Linked DNA regions of Homo sapiens: all the other regions are reported to be linked to region 1. Evidence: microRNA targets listed by miRTarBase, many of them from high-throughput screens and not tested one by one. Region 1 holds a microRNA gene; each other region holds the end of a gene's coding sequence. Distances are between the middles of the regions.
The links. The annotated mature microRNA hsa-miR-3127-3p reads UCCCCUUCUGCAGGCCUGCUGG and lies in region 1 at 2,992-3,013, shown strand. An mRNA with a match to its seed (bases 2 to 7 or 8) in the 3' UTR can be bound and repressed. Matches are read on the target gene's strand: a 7mer-m8 pairs with bases 2 to 8, a 7mer-A1 pairs with bases 2 to 7 and ends in A, and an 8mer does both.

Region 2: the mRNA of METTL21A is a reported target of hsa-miR-3127-3p. The part of its 3' UTR that is shown has no 7-base or 8-base seed match.
Region 3: miRTarBase lists REEP2 as a target of hsa-miR-3127-3p. Seed matches in the 3' UTR shown: 7mer-m8 at 453-459.

What each region holds. Positions count from the first base shown.
Region 1 is chr2:96,795,333-96,802,109 of GRCh38, forward strand. MIR3127 (microRNA 3127) reads left to right here and starts at 2,946; the gene lies at 2,946-3,021. CNNM4 (cyclin and CBS domain divalent metal cation transport mediator 4) reads left to right here. Exons shown (of 7, transcript NM_020184.4): 2 at 1,680-1,823; 3 at 2,181-2,315; 4 at 3,725-3,894; 5 at 4,220-4,316. RefSeq lists enhancers at 5,379-5,708, 5,949-6,028.
Region 2 is chr2:207,608,777-207,615,553 of GRCh38, reverse strand. METTL21A (methyltransferase 21A, HSPA lysine) reads left to right here. Exons shown (of 4, transcript NM_001127395.5): 4 at 2,111-2,815. The coding sequence ends at 2,508. Among named protein-coding and RNA genes, the nearest start is that of METTL21A, 13 kb to the left of the region's middle.
Region 3 is chr5:138,445,457-138,451,972 of GRCh38, forward strand. It overlaps REEP2 (receptor accessory protein 2), which reads left to right. Exons shown (of 8, transcript NM_001271803.2): 7 at 12-142; 8 at 227-1,509. The coding sequence ends at 295. Among named protein-coding and RNA genes, the nearest start is that of REEP2, 9.7 kb to the left of the region's middle. RefSeq lists enhancers at 4,390-4,449, 4,520-4,609.

The DNA.
Region 1 (6,777 bases):
GGCTCATCTCTAGGAAGATACTGGGGTATTTTCAATCGAGTCCAGCCATGGCTTTGTCTAGCAAGACGCTAAATGTTTTTTGACCAGAACCTGTAGTGGGAAATACATATATCATAGCCCCTGGCATGTGTGTGAAAAACTTTCACAATGCAGTACCCCCCCCCCCATCACATGGGGTGTATTGTGAGAATTTTTACTTTAGTCATGAGACCTCACATTCTCTCTGCTCTCCCTAAGAGGCCCTTAGAAGTTCTTAACAGCCCATCTTGGGCTGGGGGATTTTCTGTGGCCTTAAAGACCTGGAAAACATCCTCCACCGAGGGTATTTAGGATGAGTTCTTTAGTCCCTAGAGCGAGGCCCTTGGATTGTGAAGGGGAAGCCATGCAGAAGACCCTGACTTGACCTTCCCAGATTTCCGGGGGCCTTTCTTCCTAGGCTGCTCCAAACCTGTGTTCCTGCGAGTGGGGTATGGCACACAGGACTCATTCCACCTAGACTGTGGACCTAGCCCTTCTTGGCTGGACCCTCTTGCCACTCATGGGGCTGGGGCCATAAGAACAGGGTGTGGCCTTCAAAAAGGGGTCTGGGAAGACCCACCACCCCACAGGGTTTCTGTGGAGGGTCCTGCCCCATGCCAGCCTCCTTCCCTCACTTTGGGTTGAGGGGGTGGCCCCTCTCTAATTGTAGTCTCTGCCCCACCTAATCACAGTGCTCGGCCTCTCTGTGCCCTTGTCAGTTTGGGTCTTTCCCCTCCCCAAGAGTTCCAGAAGCCCCTGATAAGTGATACCAGACAGGGTCTTTTTTTTTTTTTTTTTTTTTTTTTTTTTTTGAGACAGAGTCTTGCTCTGTTGCCCAGGCTGGAGTGCAGTGGCGTGATCTCGGCTCACTGCAACCTCTGCCTCCCGGGTTCAAGCAATTCTCCTGCCTCAGCCTTCCGAGTAGCTGGGACTACAGGTGTGTACTACCACACCTAGCTGATTTTTGTATTTTTAGTAGAGATGGGGTTTTACCGTGTTGGCCAGGCTGGTCTCAAACTCCTGGCCTCAAGCAATCTGCCCGCTTCAGCCCGTCCAAGGTGCTGGGATTACAGATGTGAGCCATTGCTCCCAGCATTGCCATTTTTATCCGATTTAAACAAGTAGTCCTGGCCTGGCGTGGTGGCTCATTCCTGTATTCCCAGCACTTTGGGAGGCTGAGATGGGAGGACTGCTTGAGCCCAGGAGTTTGAGACCAGCTTGAGCAACATAGCGAGATCCATCTCTACAAAAAATAAAAGAGTTAGCCAGGCATGGTGGAGCACACCTGTGGTCTCAGCTACTCGGGAGGCTGAGGTGGGAGGATCTCTTGAGCCCAGAAGTTGGCGGCTGCAGTGAGCTATGATTGCGCCACTGCACTCCAGCCTGGGTAACAGAGCTAGACCCTGTCCTTCCTCCACAAAAACAGAGAAAAACAAAAAAGTGGTCCTTAACGACATGCTTTTAAAAATTACTTTTAGTTTTCCTTTTCATAAAAGCAATGTCTGTTTGCAGTAGAAACGTCAGGAAAGATGGAAAAGATAAAAACCACCATGACCCCATCCTGGTGACTTATGACCCTACGTCTAGAGTTAATGTTTTGGTTGAGGGAGTCTCATGACTGGCCTCTGGGCTCTTGTCTGACTTGCTGCATTGTCCCACAGGGAAGTCCCACCTGGCCATCGTGCAGAAGGTAAACAACGAGGGTGAGGGTGACCCCTTCTACGAGGTCCTGGGCCTGGTCACCCTGGAGGACGTGATCGAGGAGATCATCAAGTCGGAGATCCTGGACGAGTCCGACATGTACAGTGAGTCCAGCCTTCCACAGGGCCCAGGACCCCTTTCCTGCTTGGATCGAAACTTGGTGTCCCTAGCTGGAAGGGCCATAGTGCAGGGACACAGGAGGCCTAGCATCCAGAGGCCCAGTGGCTGGGTGCCCTGCACTGGCCGGGGTGAGCAGGGAGCAGGTTGCTGAGAGCAGTGCCCGGAGGCTGCCTTCACCCTCGGCCTTTGTGCCTCGGCGTCAGCCCAGGACCCTGCCAGCCAGAGCCTGCTGCTCCTGCGTGGGACTAGGGGCTGGAGAGCAGGAGCTGCGGGGCGGGTTCCAGTCTCTTCCTAAGTCCTCAGGGGTCTGTGTTCTCAATTCCACGCTCTTCTTCCGGCAGCTGACAACCGAAGCCGGAAGCGGGTGTCTGAGAAGAACAAGCGTGACTTCTCTGCCTTCAAGGATGCGGACAATGAGCTCAAAGTGAAAATCTCCCCGCAGCTCCTCCTGGCCGCTCATCGCTTCCTAGCCACAGGTAGCATGAGGAGGACCTTCCGGTCTTGGTGGAAATACGGTCACGGGGGAGAAGTCCTGGGTTTCCGGCTGCTTTCCCCCCATAGGACGAGGGCTGCAGCAGGTGAGGGGTGCAGAGACAACACAGCCACCCCTGGAAGGGGCCGGGTATCTGCTCCACCCCTGGGGATCTCCCTGCGATTCATTTGCCATTAATGGGCGGCTACTGCAAACTTCTAGGAAGCATCCAAGTTACTATATTTAATAGTTTGGGAAATAATGACTAGGCACTATGGCTTATACCTGTAATCCCAGCACTTTGGGAGGCCGAGGCAGGAGGATTGCATGAGCCCAGGAGTTCGAGACCAGCCTGAGCAACATGGCGAGACCCCATCTCTACAAAAAATACAAAAGCCAGGCATGGTGGTGCCCTCCTGTAGTCCCAGCTACTTGGGAGGCTATGAGGTGGGACAGTTGCATGTCTGTGGTCCCAGCTACTCAGGAGGCTGATGTGGGAGGACCGCTTGAGCCCAGGAGTTTGAAGCTGCAGTAAGTTGTGAATGCACCACTGCACTCAGCCTGGGCCACAGAACAAGATTCTGTCTCAAAAATAACAAAAAAGAAAATAACCACTGAGGTGGGCCCCTAGGCTGGCCAGGCCCATCAGGGCTTGTGGAATGGGAAGGAGAAGGGACGCTTCCCCTTCTGCAGGCCTGCTGGGTGTGGCTGGACCCCTCGTGTGCTCACCCACTCTGAGGAGCTTGCATCCAGCTCTGCTCTTACTCTCCAGCTCTCCCCTTTGCAGACGTGTGCTGGTTCCCGCAGGAATTCACTTCTAGTTCAGAGACATTTCTCTCTTTTCAGCCCTGATTCAAAGCTCCACTGGGGACTTGGGTGACAGGTTCTGCTCTGCCCGCTCTGTCCCCCTCTTCCCCTGGCCCAATTCATCTTCCTTCCCACCCCTTACTTGCTAAAGGGGTGGCAATTCCCTCTCCATTATTTTTCCTGTGGGATATTGATGCTGATGCAATAATTATAGTCTATATATTTTAGTATATATGGACAGCACATATATACTAAGTGCTGTCCATGTGCTATCCCATTCACCCTCACAACCACCCTGTGAAGCTTTTACCCCCATATTACAGATGAGGAAACTGAGATGCAGGTTAAGTAATTTGCCCAAGGTCATGTGCTGTTCTTGCAGGAGCCACTGTTCAAGCCCAGGCAGGCAGGCAGCCTTGTATCCAACCAGTCAGAAGCCAAGCGTGCTCCCTCCCCAGGGAGGTGCAGAACGAGGGCCGGCCGAGCAGGGCGGGAGTCGTCTGAGCACAGCGTGGCTGCTGTGGTTGGGGTGGAGGCACAGCAGTGATCGAGCTTTAGGGCCACCTGGCCAGCCCCGTGTGAGGTCTCTTCTCTCTCCTCCTACAGAGGTCTCTCAGTTTAGCCCCTCCCTGATATCAGAGAAGATCCTGCTGCGGCTACTCAAGTACCCAGATGTCATTCAGGAACTCAAGTTTGACGAGCACAATAAGTACTACGCCCGCCATTACCTGTACACCCGAAATAAGCCGGCCGACTACTTCATCCTCATCCTGCAGGTGAGCCCGCTCAGCCCTGGGCCTGCCACCTGCTCCCCCTGGCACTGCAGCAACCCCCAGGCCCTCTCTCCCACCTGCTGCGGAGGTGCATGGCTTCCCTGCCTGGGGAGCCTGCTGCCTGCCCTTGAGCCCCGCCTGCCCCACGTGGCCATCCTCTCCCTGAGAGGCCACTCTTGATCTCACAGGTCAGGCCCCTGAGCTCTCCAGGGCTCCAGTACCGGCCCTTCCTCCTGCCCCACTGTCCCTTGTTCCTCACTCCCCATCCTGCCTCATCCTTTGTTTCCTCCCTCACTTGGTCTCTAACTCCAGCCCTGTGTTTTTTCAGGGGAAGGTGGAGGTGGAGGCAGGGAAGGAGAACATGAAGTTTGAGACGGGCGCCTTCTCCTACTATGGGACTATGGCCCTGACCTCGGTCCCCTCCGGTGAGTTGTTGGGCATGGTCTTTGCTGCCCTTTGGCCCCCCTGCAGCTGGGGAGCCATGGACCGACACCAGAACTGAGCATGGGCCCGAGAGCTCATAGCCAGCTGGCTGGGGCAGAGGGAGGCTGGTGAGGCGGGAGCCGCCAGGGCCTGGAGCGGGTGGTGTGGAAGAGCAGAGGGAGCTGCCACTTTGGATGGGGTCCAGAAGCTGGAGGGGAAAAGAGGAGTGAGGGATTTTAGAGTAAAGGCCTGGAGGCAGCGGAGGGCATGTCCAGAGGTTGTGAGGAGACCAGCCTGCTTGGAGAGGAGGCCTGTGGGGAGGAAGGCCCAGGGCCCTGCTCCTGAGGACAGGAGGGGAGTCTGAGCATCCAAAGTGACTGGGGTCAGGAGCCAGGCCAGGGCCTGTTTGCCAGGGCAGGCTGCAGATGGGTTTGGCTTTTCGGAGGACGCGGCTACTGGGTTTTGGTTAGAGGTCAGCTCCGATGGAATAAAGGGCCTTGGGGACAGACAGAAGGGAGACTGGGCACCCTCCGAGAGGTGTTATGGAAGGTCCGGGGATGCGCCACTCTGGCCGCCCCAGTGCCCTCTCCTGTGCTGAGTGGCTCAGGCTTTCCCCGCAGAGCCCCACAGACAAGGCCCCGCAGGCCCAGGTCTCGCCAGCTCATCTCCTCGCTCCTCTCCAGGCTTCGGTCCTGGGGCGAGGTTGCTGCAGGGTAGAGAGAGAAAGTCCACTTTGGTGCTGGAGAACAGGCCACGCCAGTGGGGTACGAGCTGCAGCTCCCAGAGAACCTCTGTGCTGTGCCTCTCACTGTCCTTTGACAAAAAGGACCCCGAGGGGGAACGGGGGTAGGGCACCCATGAATACTGACACCCAGCTTGGCTTATCCACCATGTCCTCGGCCCCTCCACCAGATGAGTGGGGCATGGCAGGCTCCCTGGGCAGGGGACAGACAGGGCCCCAGAGCGGGGCTCTGAGCAGGTTAACCCTATCAGATGCCTCAGGCCTGGGGATGACTTCCTGTGCCTCCAAGAGCAGCTGTTCTCTGTTCAGTTTGAGGAAATCTCATTCAGAAGGGCGGGCAGGCACGGGAGGCTTCCCCCAGGCACTGTTTGTGCAGTGAAGCCTCAGAGGCCCGGTTAGGGCCCAGGCTCTGTCCGTTGACCCATAGTCTCTCTGTTCCCACTTGGTGTGGCCAGAAGAGAGGGGAGATGACTGGGCACACTCAGCCAGCTTCTGCCTGTCTCCGCACAGGGCTCACCGCTGTGCCCTGAGCACCCTTCCCAGCAGAGCCATGTCCCTTTCTCCACTGGGCCCATCTCTGCCCAAAGCAGCCTGGCCCCGTCAGGTCTGCCTCTGTCCTGTGCCTGTGGTTCCGTGTCCTGTCTCCTGACTGCGCCCATCACTGACCTTCTCTTTTGCTCCAGTGCCTTCAGTCCAGGTCGGGTGTCCGCCTGGCAAGCGGAACTCCCTGCTCTGCTGGCTCACAGGTAACGTGGCACAGCTGAGGGTCACGCTGCCACCTGCTGCCTGTGCCTGCACACTGCAGCTGCATTAACCTCCCCACATGGACCCGGACCCCCGCCTGCTCAATGTGGGCCGCCAGACCTCAGTGGCTCTGCTTGGCTGGGGCCCAATTTCTAGGCAGCTTTGCTGCCTCAGCTCTAGAAGGGGCCCCCAAAGATCTCTTGGTGCTTGAGATCACACACTCATAGACACATACACACAGAGACACACAGAGAGATACACATACAGATACACATAGCCATAGATACACGCAGAGACACACACAGTGAGAGACCACATGCAGAGAGACCGCACACACAGAGAGAGACCACACACACACAGAGACCACACACAGAGAGAGACCACACACAGAGATAGCACACACACAGAGAGACCACACACACACAGAGACCACACACAGAGATAGCACACACACAGAGAGACCACACACACAGAGACCACACACAGAGACCACACGCAGAGAGACCACACACATGCAGAGAGACCACACACACACACACACAGAGACCACACGCAGAGAGACCACACACACGCAGAGAGACCACACACATGCAGAGACCACACACACCCAGAGACCACACACCCAGACACACACACAGACAGAGATACTACAGACACCCATAGACAGAGATATCACACACAGAAACACACATGCAGATACACCCATAGACACACAGATGCCACAGAGGCATACACAGAGAAACACCCGTAGACACACCAGGATACACATACACACATAGATACACCACTCATAGACACACAAACACACACCCATAGGCACACACCCATAGGCACACACACAAAGAGACACACACAGACACACACCCATGGACACACACACACACAGAAGCACCCACCCATAGGCACACACACAGACACACACAGATACACATCCATAGACACACAGACACACAGGTATATATACACAGATACACCCA
Region 2 (6,777 bases), 110 Mb from region 1:
CAGCTAATTTTTGTAGTTTTAGTAGAGACGGGGTTTCACCATGTTGGCCAGGATAGTCTCGATCTCTTGACCTTATGATCCACCTGCCTCGGCCTCCCAAAGTGCTGGGATTACAGGCGTGAGCCACCACGCCTGGCCTAAAGTTGTTCTTTTAAGTGCAGCCTTGACCTCCTGGGCTCCAGTGATCCTCCCACCTCAGCCTCCTGAATAGTGCCACCACGCCTGGCTAATTTTTTTATTTTTTTGTGGAGATGGGATCTCTCTATGTTGTCAGGGCTGGTCTTGAACTTCTGGGCTCAAGTGATGCTCCTGCCTCGACCTCCCAAAGTGCTTGGATTACAGGTTGAGCTACTCGGCCTGGCTGTCTGCAATTTTTATTTTCAGAAAAGATGAAAACTGTCATTGAAATCTATCCATTGGGCAACACACTGTCTAGCAACGAATGGTCAAAGTGGTAGGTTCAGGCTTGTAAAATCTAACAACTTGAGCATTTTCATCAGTATCTCATAGTAGGACTGTAAATGTCAAATTGAATTACTGCCCTAACTTATGTGTCAAGATAAGAAACACTGAGTATCAGCTGCCACTGAAATAGTGCTTATTGCAACTAGTCTGGAATCCTGTGGGAAGATTACCTATGAAGATTACAAACTGAAGAAGGATGCAAATGGAAAGAATTTTATGAAAGATTGAAACATAATTTTAAATTTCAGAATTTCTGGGGTCAGAAGTAAAGAGTACTACACATATTATATCTTTCCTACAACGTAGATGAGGTGGATCCGACCTGACCTTATGTGCTTGCTCCACCTTAAGGTCTTCTCTTACCCACATTGGTTCAAAAAAAAGGATCTTTTTGTCAACAACCCATAAGAAACAGTTTAGTTTTTCTACACTGTGTGTAGAAACTTAGCATTAAGAACAAGCATTTTAACCTACATTAATAAAATTAAGTAATTTTTAAGCTTACAATTTTTCAAGAAATACGTAAAACATGTAAGTTGGCTGCTTCATAACAGCCTAAGGAGAAGTGGACTGGGATTTCTTAGTAGCCAATTTATTTCTTCCATGATTCTTTTTTAAACTGTAACCTTACAAAACAGCCTTTCTCTGTTTTTGGTATCTTGTCATCTTTGCAATAATAGTCTGCTCCCAGATATTTTTTTTTTTTTTGAGACTGGGTGTTGCTCTGTTGCCCAGGCACAATAACAGTTCACTGCAGCCTCGATCTCCCATACTCACATGATATCCCACCTCCGCCTCCTGAGTAGTTAAGACCACAGGTGTGCACTGTGCTTAATTAAAAAAAATTATTTGTAGAGATGGAGTCTCCCTGTGTTACCCAGGCTGGTCTTGAACTCCTGGGCTCAAGGGCTTCTCCCACCTCAGCCTCCCTAAGTGCTGGGATTACAGGCATGAGCCACTGTACCTGGCCTGCTCCCAGATATTTCATTCTTGGATTCCATTTTAGCCTGCGGCCAACTGACTTAAAGATAATGACCCAATGAATAAAGTATGGGCCAGCTCTGTTGGCAGAATTCAGAAGCATCAGCCGTGTCACTGGTTAATTCTACTTTTTTTTGAGATGGAGTTTTGCTCTTGTCACCCAGGCTGGAGTGCAGTGGCGAGATCTCAGCTCACTGCAACCTCTGCCTCCCAGGTTTAAGTGATTCCCCTGCCTCAGCCTCCCGAGTAGCTGGGATTACAGGTGCCCGCCACCATGCCTGGCTAATTTTGTATTTTTAGTTGGCCATGTTGGCCAGGCTGGTCTCCAACTCCTGACCTCAGGTGATCCACCCGCTTTGGCCTCCCAAAGTGCTGGGATTAAAGGCATGAGCCACCACACCCAGCCAATTCTGCAATTTATAGGCACAATTTTAGCAAATAGCAGGTATGTCATAGAGGCAAATCAAGAGTCACTTCTACCAGTAGTTAATGCAAAAGGAGCTGTGAGTCATTTTTCTATTGCAGCTGTCCATGAAAGGTGTGATTGATATTATGCATATCAGATGCAATATTTAAGAGACACTCTACATTTAACTTGACCCCCTCTCTACCTAACAGAATTGTACTGATGTACACATCACTTTTTCTTTGTTCCACATTGTAGGTGCTCATGTGACTATCACGGATCGAAAAGTAGCATTAGAATTTCTTAAATCAAACGTTCAAGCCAACTTACCTCCTCATATCCAAACTAAAACTGTTGTTAAGGAGCTGACTTGGGGACAAAATTTGGGGAGTTTTTCTCCTGGAGAATTTGACCTGATACTTGGTGCTGATATCATATATTTAGAAGAAACATTCACAGATCTTCTTCAGACACTGGAACATCTCTGTAGCAATCACTCTGTGATTCTTTTAGCATGCCGAATTCGCTATGAACGGGATAACAACTTCTTAGCAATGCTGGAGAGGCAATTTACTGTGAGAAAGGTTCACTACGATCCTGAAAAAGATGTACATATTTACGAAGCACAGAAGAGAAACCAGAAGGAGGACTTATAATTGGCTATAATTTATAAGAATGTTGTCATTGAGTGTGTCACTTAAGGTCTTAGACTGCAAATCTAACCATATTTAATGAAATGTCTTACTGTACAAAAAGTCTAAGCCAAAGGTTCTCAGGGGAGAAAGCACATGTGCAGTTTTAAAACAAAGCAGTGCTTTGTCCCATTGCTGTGATTTTTAGTCAGACTTTACTCAGTCTGAAATGCAATTAACATTAAAGGATTAAGTGTGAGATTTCGATTTATGCTATTTGTGTATCCCATACTCCTCCCTTTTAATAAACAGTTTCCACTGATGATATGAAGGGCCGGTATAAAGAAGTCTTTAAATGAGTAAGCTTTCTTGGTAAGATTAAATCTTACAAATTATTTTTAAAACCTTGTGATATATACAATGTTTAGCTGAGTTTTCTAATTTTCTGGATGTAAAACAAAAGGTTTAACCTATACATTCCTTGAGCTGTTAGTGCTATTTAAATCTTTTGCCCTGTTTAGGTCCTAAACACTTTTAGTTGAGTAGGATATGAGCTTTTTTGGGTCTCATATCATGCTTTTTGCCTTAATTTCAGGTATATATATATATATAAATAAAGGAATTAAGTAAAAATAAAATTTCAGTTACTTTTTAAAAGCACCTGAAATCTGGCCGGATGCGGTGGCTCATGCCTGTAATCCCACCACTTTGGGAGGCCGAGGCGGGCAGATCACCTGAGGTCAGGAGTTCAAGACCAGCCTGGCCAACATGGTGAAACCCCATCTCTACTAAAAATACAAAAATTAGCCGGGCGTGGTGTCAGGCGCCTGTAATCCCAGCTACTCAGGAGGCTGAGGCAGGAGAATCGCTTGAACCTGGGAGGCAGAGGTTGCAGTGAGCTGAGATTGCACCATTGTACTCCAGCCTGGGGGACAAGAGCGAGACTCCATCTCAAAAAAAAAAAAAAAAAAAAAAAAAAAAAGCACCTGAAATCTTGAATAGGTTTTCTTTTTTTTTTTTTTTTTTTAATTAATTTATTTTTTTTTTATTGATCATTCTTGGGTGTTTCTCGCAGAGGGGGATTTGGCAGGGTCATAGGACAATAGTGGAGGGAAGGTCAGCAGATAAACAAGTGAACAAAGGTCTCTGGTTTTCCTAGGCAGAGGACCCTGCGGCCTTGGCCTTCCGCAGTGTTTGTGTCCCTGGGTACTTAAGATTAGGGAGTGGTGATGACTCTTAACGAGCATGCTGCCTTCAAGCATCTGTTTAACAAAGCACATCTTGCACCGCCCTTAATCCATTTAACCCTGAGTGGACACAGCACATGTTTCAGAGAGCACAGGGTTGGGGATAAGGTCACAGATCAACAGGATCCCAAGGCAGAAGAATTTTTCTTAGTACAGAACAAAATGAAAAGTCTCCCATGTCTACTTCTATCCACACAGACCCGGCAACCATCCGATTTCTCAATTTTTTCCCCACCCTTCCCGCCTTTCTATTCCACAAAACCGCCATTGTCATCGTGGCCCATCCCCAATGAGCCGCTGGGCACACCTCCCAGACGGGGTCGTGGCCGGGCAGAGGGGCTCCTCACTTCCCAGTAGGGGCGGCCGGGCAGAAGCGCCCCTCACCTCCCGGATGGGGCGGCTGGCCGGGCGGGGGGCTGACCCCCCCACCACCCTCCCGGACGGGGCGGCTGGCCAGGCAGAGGGGCTCCTCACTTCCCAGTAGGGACGGCCGGGCAGACGCGCCCCTCACCTCCTGGATAGGGCGGCTGGCTGGGCGGGGGGCTGTCCCCCCCACCTCCCTCCCGGACGGGGCGGCTGGCCGGGCAGAGGGGTCCTCACTTCCCAGTAGGGGCGGCCGGGCAGAGGCGCCCCTCACCTCCCGGACGGGGCGGCCGGCCGGAAGGGGGGCTGACCCCCCCCACCTCCCTCCCGGACCGGGCGGCTGGCCGACCCCCCCCCCCCCCCCCGCCTCCCTCCCGGACGGGGCGGCTGGCCGGGCAGAGGGGCTCCTCACTTTCCAGTAGGGGCGGCCGGGCAGAGGCGCCCCTCACCTCCCGGACGGGGCGACTGGCCAGGCGGGGGGCTGACCCCCCCACCTCCCTCCCGGATGGGGCAGCTGGCCAGGTGGGAGGATGACCCCCCCACCTCCCTCCCGGGCGGGGCGGCTGGCCGGGCAGAGGGGCTCCTCACTTCCCAGTAGGGGCGGCCGGGCAGAGGCGCCCCTCACCTCCCGGATGGGGCGGCTGGCCAGGCGGGGGGCTGATCCCCCCACCTCCCTCCCGGACGGGGCGGCTGGCCAGGCAGAGGGGCTCCTCACTTCCCAGTAGGGGCGGCCGGGCAGAGGAGCCCCTCACCTCCCGGACGGGGCGGCTGGCCGGGCGGGGGGCTGACCCCCCCCACCTCCCTCCCGGACGGGGTGGCTGCTGGGCGGAGACGCTCCTCACTTCCCAGACGGGGTGGTTGCCGGACGGAGGGGCTCCTCACTTCTCAGACGGGGCGGTTGCCAGGCAGAGGGTTTCCTCACTTCTCAGACGGAGCGGCCGGGCAGAGACGCTCCCCACCTCCCAGACAGGGCTGCGGCCCAGCAGAGGCGCTCCTCACATCCCAGACAGGGCGGCGGGGCAGAGGTGCTCCCCACATCTCAGACGATGGGCGGCCGGGCAGAGACGCTCCTCACTTCCTAGATGGGATGGCGGCGGGGAAGAGGCGCTCCTCGCTTCCCAGATGGGATGGCGGCCGGGCAGAGACGCTCCTCACTTTCCAGACTGGGCAGCCAGGCAGAGGGGCTCCTCACATCCCAGACGATGGGTGGCCAAGCAGAGACGCTCCTCACTTCCCAGACGGGGTGGCGGCCAGGCAGAGGCTGCAATCTCGGCTCTCCGGGAGGCCAAGGCAGGCGGCTGGGAGGTGGTTGCAGCGAGCCGAGATCACGCCACTGCACTCCAGCCTGGGCACCATTGAGCACTGAGTGAACGAGACTCCATCTGCAATCCCGGCACCTCGGGAGGCCGAGGCTGGCGGATCACTCGCGGCTAGGAGCTGGAGACCAGCCCGGCCAACACAGCGAAACCCCGTCTCCACCAAAAAAAACCGAAAACCAGTCAGGCGTGGCGGTGCGCGCCTGCAATCGCAGGCACTCGGCAGGCTGAGGCAGGAGAATCAGGCAGGGAGGTTGCAGTGAGCCGAGATGGCAGCAGTACCGTCCAGCCTTGGCTCGGCATCAGAGGGAGACCGTGGAGGGAGAGGGAGAGGGAGAGGGAGAGGGAGGGGGAGGGAGAGGGAGAGGGAGGGAATAGGTTTTCTATTTCAAGTCAAGAGCTGAGGTTTTCCCCTTCTGTTTTACCCTTGCTCAAATGTCTTAATGCAGTTCTTTCCCAAGCTTTCCCTGCTTCCTTAACAACGCATAGGATGACATTAAAAGTTTTAAATCTCATCCCTGCCTGAGAGGTTAGCTTCCTACATATAAGCTCCTTTTGTATTGGACTTGTAATTGCTCATTCAGTGGTAGTATTGCCCTGTAGAGTGTAAGCTCCTTGAGGGCCAAGAATGCTTCTGCCTCTTCCATTGTTGCTTCCCCAGTACCTTCTGTATATTTCATAACCAAATAATGAAAAAGATACATTCCATTTAAAGGGCATTGACTTTGGGTTAAATGATTGTTATATTGTTTTAGGATTATCTATGATACACTTTGACATCTCACACACACACATGAACTTTTCTTTTTACAATGCAAAAGTTTAAACAATAGCTTAAATTTAGACTGCAAGAATATTATAATCTCAATATGGTATTTGGTACTAGAGATAGATTTCTTTTATAAAATCTTAAAAACAGGACGTTCTCTTCCTTTTGAACCTTTATCCCAGAGGTGAAAATATCCAATATGTTGTTTTCTGCATATATTGAAGTAGTAGTTTCACTTTAATAAAGATGGATTAAAAGTTGTGAGCATTCTGTGATATACCAGTTCAACACAATTCTAATACACATGAAATGGAAATGTCCATAGCTTACTGAATCCATAAAATGTCAGTACTGCACCATGAATATGAAAGATTGTTTAAAACAAAATAAAGCCTGGCAGTATCACCAACACCATAATGACAAGCCAGTCCCACTTAGGTATGTTATTGGGAATGCATATTCGCTCTGTCACCCAGGCTGGAGTGCGGGGCACGATCTCAGCTCACTGCAAGCTCCGCCTCCCGTATTCACGCCATTCTCCTGGCTCAGCCTCCCGAGTAGCTGGGACTACAGGTGCCTGCCACCACGGTCCGGCTAA
Region 3 (6,516 bases), not on the chromosome of region 1:
CCTGCACCCAGGAGATGACCCTGCCCTGAGTCTAAGGTCCAGCACAAACCCGGCAGATTCCCGGACAGAGGCTTCTGAGGATGACATGGGAGACAAAGCTCCCAAGAGGGCCAAACCCATCAAAAAAGCGCCCAAAGCTGAGGTGAGGGCACTGGCCAGAGCTTGGGGAAACAGGCAGGGGGTGGCGGCTCCAGGCTGAGCCCCATCTTCCTCCTTCTTTCCACAGCCACTGGCTTCCAAGACACTGAAGACCCGGCCCAAGAAGAAGACCTCTGGCGGGGGCGACTCAGCTTGAGCCCCTCCACCCCCGCAGGCTGCAGAGCAAGGATGAAGCCTCAGGAGGGGCCTCAGACCCAGCCCCTGCTCCACACTGTGCCAGTAGCCTAGGTGTCTCAGGCCCCTGGGCCCCGCAGATGGCCATTTCCGGTGCCTGCCCAGTGGCCACTCTTCTGGAAGGGGCTTGGAAAAGAGGAAGGAGGCCCAGCTGTGGGGGTTGAGGGTAGAGGGTGGACCAGAGGCTGAGGACTGAGCCACCCAAGGAGGTGGGGACTGCTCGGCCTCCACCGCTGTTCCGCTGCAGCCCCGCCCTGCCCCACCCACCCAGTGCCTTGCTGAAGCCCATAGCAATCCGCTTCTCAGAGGTCCTGTCGTGTTTCCACTGCTCGCCTTGGTTTGGGAGCAGGGAGGGGGAAGTCCTAGCCCAGATGGACCAAGGACGGGCCTGAAGGCACATGGGGGAAAGGGAGCACACGGGGAGGACGTTGGGGACCCTGGGTGGGGCCTCCAGGTGCAGCTGTGGATGGAAGACAGGGATTGGCCTGTGCTTCAGCGACCAGGATGGCCAGGCCAGAGCTGCAGCTGGGGGCTCTTTTCCTGGTCATTGGGTGGGGCTGAGTGCCACATGTTCCCACATTAAAAAGGGGGGTCCAGGGCTGTGTGAGTGTGTCTTTCTGGGTCTAGGGCTCGGGGTAGTTTGGGTCAAGGACTGTCCCTCCAGCAGTCGCCTCCTCCCACCCTGAGCCCCACAGTCATCTGGCCCTTTCCCTGCTCAACCCTCCATCCTAGGCTCTGAGCCTCAGAGGACCCAGCCCATGAGAGAACGGGGATCTGGGGGGCCTCTCACCTGCTCCTATGACCTTGCTCCCTTTTAGGTCACCCCATTGCCACCGTGCCCCTGGGCTGGACTCCCGTGCTCCTCAGGGCCCACCCCTGCTCTGTCTGGTACAGGCCCCTGCTGAGTGGGCCCCTCTCCTCTGCCCCTGGGGTCCATCCCCTCTTGCCCAGGGTCCCCATCCTGTACCAAGCAGACTGGGCCCTAAGACCCCTGGCAGAACCCAGCCTCTGCTCACACCCGCCCCAGCTTCTGCCACGGCTTCAGTCAGGGCCAGGAGGAACACGTGAAGGAGAAAGAGAAATGCAGGAGCCGCGGGGCTCCCGGTTCCTTGGGAAGAGGGTGCCCATTGGACCTTTGGCACTGGATGAGCCAATAAACCAAACTCTGGCACCTCATTTATTTTGGCCTCTGTGCTTTGTTCTTGCCACACCAGCTGACAGGTGGGAAGGACCTCAAGTGAGAAGCAGGGTTCAGCTGGGGGAGTGGGGAGGCCAGCCTGTGACTGACAGGAGCTCTGGTGCCCAGCTAAGAGATGGGCTTGAGGGGGCTCAGTCTGGGAAAATGGTTTTGGGACTCAAGATAAAACCAGAGGCCTAGGCTGGGCGCAGTGGCTCATGCCTGTAATCCCAGCACTTTGGGAGGCCGAGGCGGGCAGATCACGAGGTCAGGAGATCAAGACCATCCTGGCCAACATGGTGAAACCCCATCTCTACTAAAAATACAAAAATTAACCAGGCATGGTGGCGCGTGCCTGTAGTCCCAGCTACTTGGGAGGCTGAGGCAGGGGAATTGCTTGAACGTGGGAGGCAGAGATTGCAGTGAGCCAAGATCGTGCCACTGCACTCCAGCCTGGTGACAGAATAAGACTCCGTCTCAAACAAAACAAAAAACAAACAAAAACCACAGAGGCTTAGCTGGGTGTGGTGGCTCACACCTGTAATCCCAGCACTTTGGGAGGTGGAGGCAGGAGGATCCTTGAACTCAGGATTTTGAGACCAGCCTGGGCAACATGCGAAAATCACATCTGTATTTTTTTTTAGGGGGGGAAACTGAGTATTGCCAAGGCTGGAGTGCAGTGGCGCGATCTTGGCTCACGGCAACCTCTGCCTACTGGGTTCAAATGATTCTCATGCCTCAGCCTCCCAAGTAGCTGGAATTACAGTCATGCGCCACCATGCCCAGCTAATTTTTGTATTTTTAGTAGAGACTGGGTTTCACCATGTTGGCCAGGCTGGTCTCGAACTCCTGACCTCAAGTGATCTGCCCGCCTCGGCCTCCCAAAGTGCTGGGATTACAGGCGTGAGACACCGCGCCCAGCCATGTCTCTATTTAAAAAATAATAATAATAAATAAAAACCAGAGGCCTAAGAAGGGCCAGGGGCCCCAACCCCAAGGACTGTCTTTTCCCTCAGAATCTTACCCCAAGTCTTGAGTGGACCTTCTGGTATCCAACAGAAAGTGCTAGGTGTAGGCTCTGGGGGACAAAGATCCCAGTGAGGCCCCCAGGGGACAGAGGATAGGATATGGAGCTGTGGGGCAGGCCTCGGGGACTGTGCCTAGAAAGACCAAAGGGGGTTGAGCCAGAGAGGTTGAGCGAAGAAGCAGAGATGGGGAAGACAGGACAAGGGCTTGTGAAGAAACCAGCCCTGGGGACAGAGAGGGAACCAAGGGCTGAGACAAAGAGGCACAGCCTGTGTGGCACCAGGAAAGGCAGAGGTCCAGCCCTGACTACTGGGCTAGGTTGGAGGAAAGGAGGAGAAGGGAGCTGCAGGGCATGGGGTCCGAGCCCTGGGACGCAGAGCCAGAGCTCCAGGGGCCAAGAAGCACAACTGACTGGGGATGAGCCCCCGGGAAGCCGGAACCCAGGGGGAGGGAAAGGCTGGCAGAGGAGCAGAGGCAGGTACGGAGGAGAGACTAAGGAAAAGAGCCGTAAGGGAGGAAAAAGGGGATCAGAGAAATAGCTCAGCCTGTGGAAGGAAAATGAACGAAGCAGACCATGGGGTGGGTAGGGGGTATGAGTAGGACCCAGACCCAGGCTCTGGACCCCAAGTTTGGCAAAGCGCCCCTACACTAGGCTTTCCTCCTCCTTCCCTGGCATCACAGGGCATGTGCACCTTCCACACTTGAGCCAAGCTAGCCAAGAGCCCCCTGAAGTGAGGTCACAGTGGGGGATGTGAGGTGTCCCTTTTGTCTTTCCTTGGAATCCTCCAGTCAACCAGCCCTCTGAGGGGCATCACCTTCACCATCAGCCTCTCAGCAATTTTGGCTCATTTTTCCATCGGAAAGGAGAGGAAGCTACCACAGTAAAATTTAGGGGAGGGATTCATTCTAGAAAAGTCCCCAGAGAGTAAGATGCTGCAGTCCCACGCTAACAGCTACCATATGCCCAGGAAACCAGGTTAGGCGCTCTTTAACCTAAATCTCATTTGCTGCATACCACACACACACAAACACACACACTGGCTCACACTCAGGAGGAGCATGCTCACATCTACAGTGACTGGTGGCTAGGCAGGTCACATCCAGATTCTGCATTGTCAAGCTCTCCGTGCACATCAGGGGTTCCCTGTGTCCACAGGAACATGCTCAGATTTCCAAGCTCATTGGTTTGTTGCTATGGAAACATTCAGGCTTCTAGAACTCTGGGCACAGGGCCTGCCCCCTGTGGTGCAGAGGAGAGAAGAGATGGAGGGTGACAAGAAGAACGGGTGGAAAGGCTCCTGGGAAAGAGGCTGGCTGGTGGCACACATCTGGGCCTAGGTGACCCCTTGCTGTCCCCTCATTCCCTGGGACAATCTCCCCTCTCCCCTTTCCCCTCTGCCTCCGTAGATCTCTCCAAGCCAGGGTAGTGGGAAAGAGATGTCAGAAATAGGTGGATGGCCAGAGCTATGTGGAGGGTGCTCGATCACTGCCTGGGTCCCCAGGAGCCTTTGAGAGGTATTAGCTTTGGGTAGGGACTGGGGCAGGCTAGCGCTGGGTCCCATGCCCAGGCCTCCTTGGGATCGCTGGGCAGCCCTCCAGGCCTGAGGTACCTGACTATAACAGCCTCAGGTCTCTAGCTTCTTCAGCTGGCCCCCCCTCCCTTTCTTGTGGGTGCCCTACACCCAGAGAACCTGCTTAAAATGGGATTTCCAGGCTGTGACGTCAGAGGAAAGCCAGCAGCTCCATCCAGCCTCTGCCAGCTCTCCCTTGATCGGCAGAGCTGAGCCCAGCTTTGCTTGGCCTGGAGGGAGGTAGGGCGGGCACAGAAGGGAGGGCCTTGGGGGCTCTGAGCCATGGTCCCCATATCTGTGGCATCCAGAATGACAGGGAGAGGCTGTTTGCAGGCCCAAAGCCCCTCCTGGCTTCCCCACTATCTTCAATTTCCGCCAGTGCACGATCACCCCCCTCCCACATCCCCCCAGTTTCTCCCTCTCTGAGCTGGGTCAGGTCCGTCGGGAGGAGGAGGGCATCTCCTGTCCTTACCGGACAGCGGCTTTTGTGTGTGTCCTGCCTGAAACGGTGCCATATCCAGGCTGGAGGCGGCGAGGCGTGGGAGGGATGCCTGCGAGGATGGAAAAGCCCACTAGGTGGCGCAGCTGCCTCCCTATGTGGGATTCCCCGGCCCCGCGGACAATCCTCTCCCGCGGCCAGTAGGCTCCAGGTTTGGTGAGCAGAGTGCCTCATCCTCCGCTCCCTGGAGTTGGAGGTTCATGAAGAAAGCATTCTTGTGGGTGAACAGGACAGCTGTGGGTTCTCCAGCAGTCTCCCCCTAAGCCCAGTCTGTGTGCACACCTACTGCCCCAGGAGATGGTCAGACCTAGAAGAAGCCCCCCACTTGCAGTGAGGTTCCAGCACCCAGCAAGCACCCTCCCCCGAACAGATAAATTGCCAAGCTCACCCTGGGATGATTTTTTTTTTTTTTTTTTTGAGACAGAGTCTCGGAGCTCTGTCGCCCAGGCTGGAGTGCAGTGGCGCGATCTTGGCTTACTACAACCTACGCCTCCTGAGTTCACGAGATTCTCCTGCCTCAGTCTCCCAAGTGGCTGGGATTACAGGCACAGGCCACCATGCCTGGCTACTTTTTGCTTTTTTTTTTTTTTTTTTTTTTTTAATATGGAGTCTCGCTCTGTCGCCCAGGCTGGAGTGCAGTGGCGCGATCTCGGCTCGCTGCAAGCTCCACCTCCTGGGCTCACGCCATTCTCCTGCCTCAGCCTCCGGAGTAGCTGGGACTACAGACACCCGCCACAACGCCCGGATAATTTTTTGTATTTTTAGTGAAGACGGGGTTTCACCGTGTTAGCCAGGATGGTCTCAATCTCTTGACCTCGTGATCCGCCCGCCTCGGCCTCCCAAAGTGCTGGAATTACAGGCGTGAGCCACCGCGCCCGGCCTTTTTTTCCTTTTTAATAGAGATGGGATTTTGCCATGTTGGCCAGGCTGGTCTCGAACTCCTGGCCTCAAGTGATCCGCCCACCTCCCAAAGTGCTGGGATTAAAGACGTGAGCCACCGCACTTGGCCCCAACCTGGGCTTCTGAAATGGCATCTAGAGAGGCTGCTGGAGCTGAATTCAGGATCAAGAGGGGAGAGGGACCCCTGAGGCAGCAAGGGATGGGGACTGGGGCGGGGAGGTAGGAAGGAGAAGTTGGGTCCAGAGGCAGGGAAGCTCATATAGCTGTGACATTCCCTGGATATGGTCTCCCTGATGGCCACAGTGGCAGTCCCAGGCCTGCTCCAGGTGCCCCCTGACCCTTCCTGTATTTTCATCTGGGGTACTATGGAGTTGAAAAAGACAAAGTCAGGCCAGGTGTGACATGGTGGCAGACACCTGTAATCCCAGCTACTCGGAGGCTGAGGCAGGAGAATCGCTTGAACCTGGGAGGGGGAGGTTGCAGTGAGCTGAGATTGCGCCATTACACTCCAGCCCAGGCGACGATGTGAGACTCCATCTCAAAAAAAAAAGAAAAGTAAAAAATAAAAGAAAAAGACAAAGTCCCTAGTCTCCACATCCTGGAATCCCATAGTATTCTTGCAGGGGCTGGGGGTGAGGCTCCTCAATGATCTACCTTTCCCTGACCTTTTTCCCAAGTTGACCCTACCAGCCCTGCATCCCCTATGAATTACCCTCTCCTTTTGTCCCAGCCAGAAAAGTGATCAATAAATAATGCTGCTTGAAATATTAATGGTGAGTTTTACACCAGCATCCCTTAACTGTGTGTGCCTGTCATTTTCCTGATAGGGAAATGCATGGTCCTCCAGACAGCTCATTCCTGTCTTGGCCAATAGAGGGTCTTTCTTTGCCAAGACTTCACCCCATTCCCATCTCAGCCAGAATCATGATTCAGTCCCATCAACTAAGAAAAGGAAGCGTCCCCCAGAGATCACCTCAGTTAGCACCTCCAACCCAGGAAGGGTGGAGTAA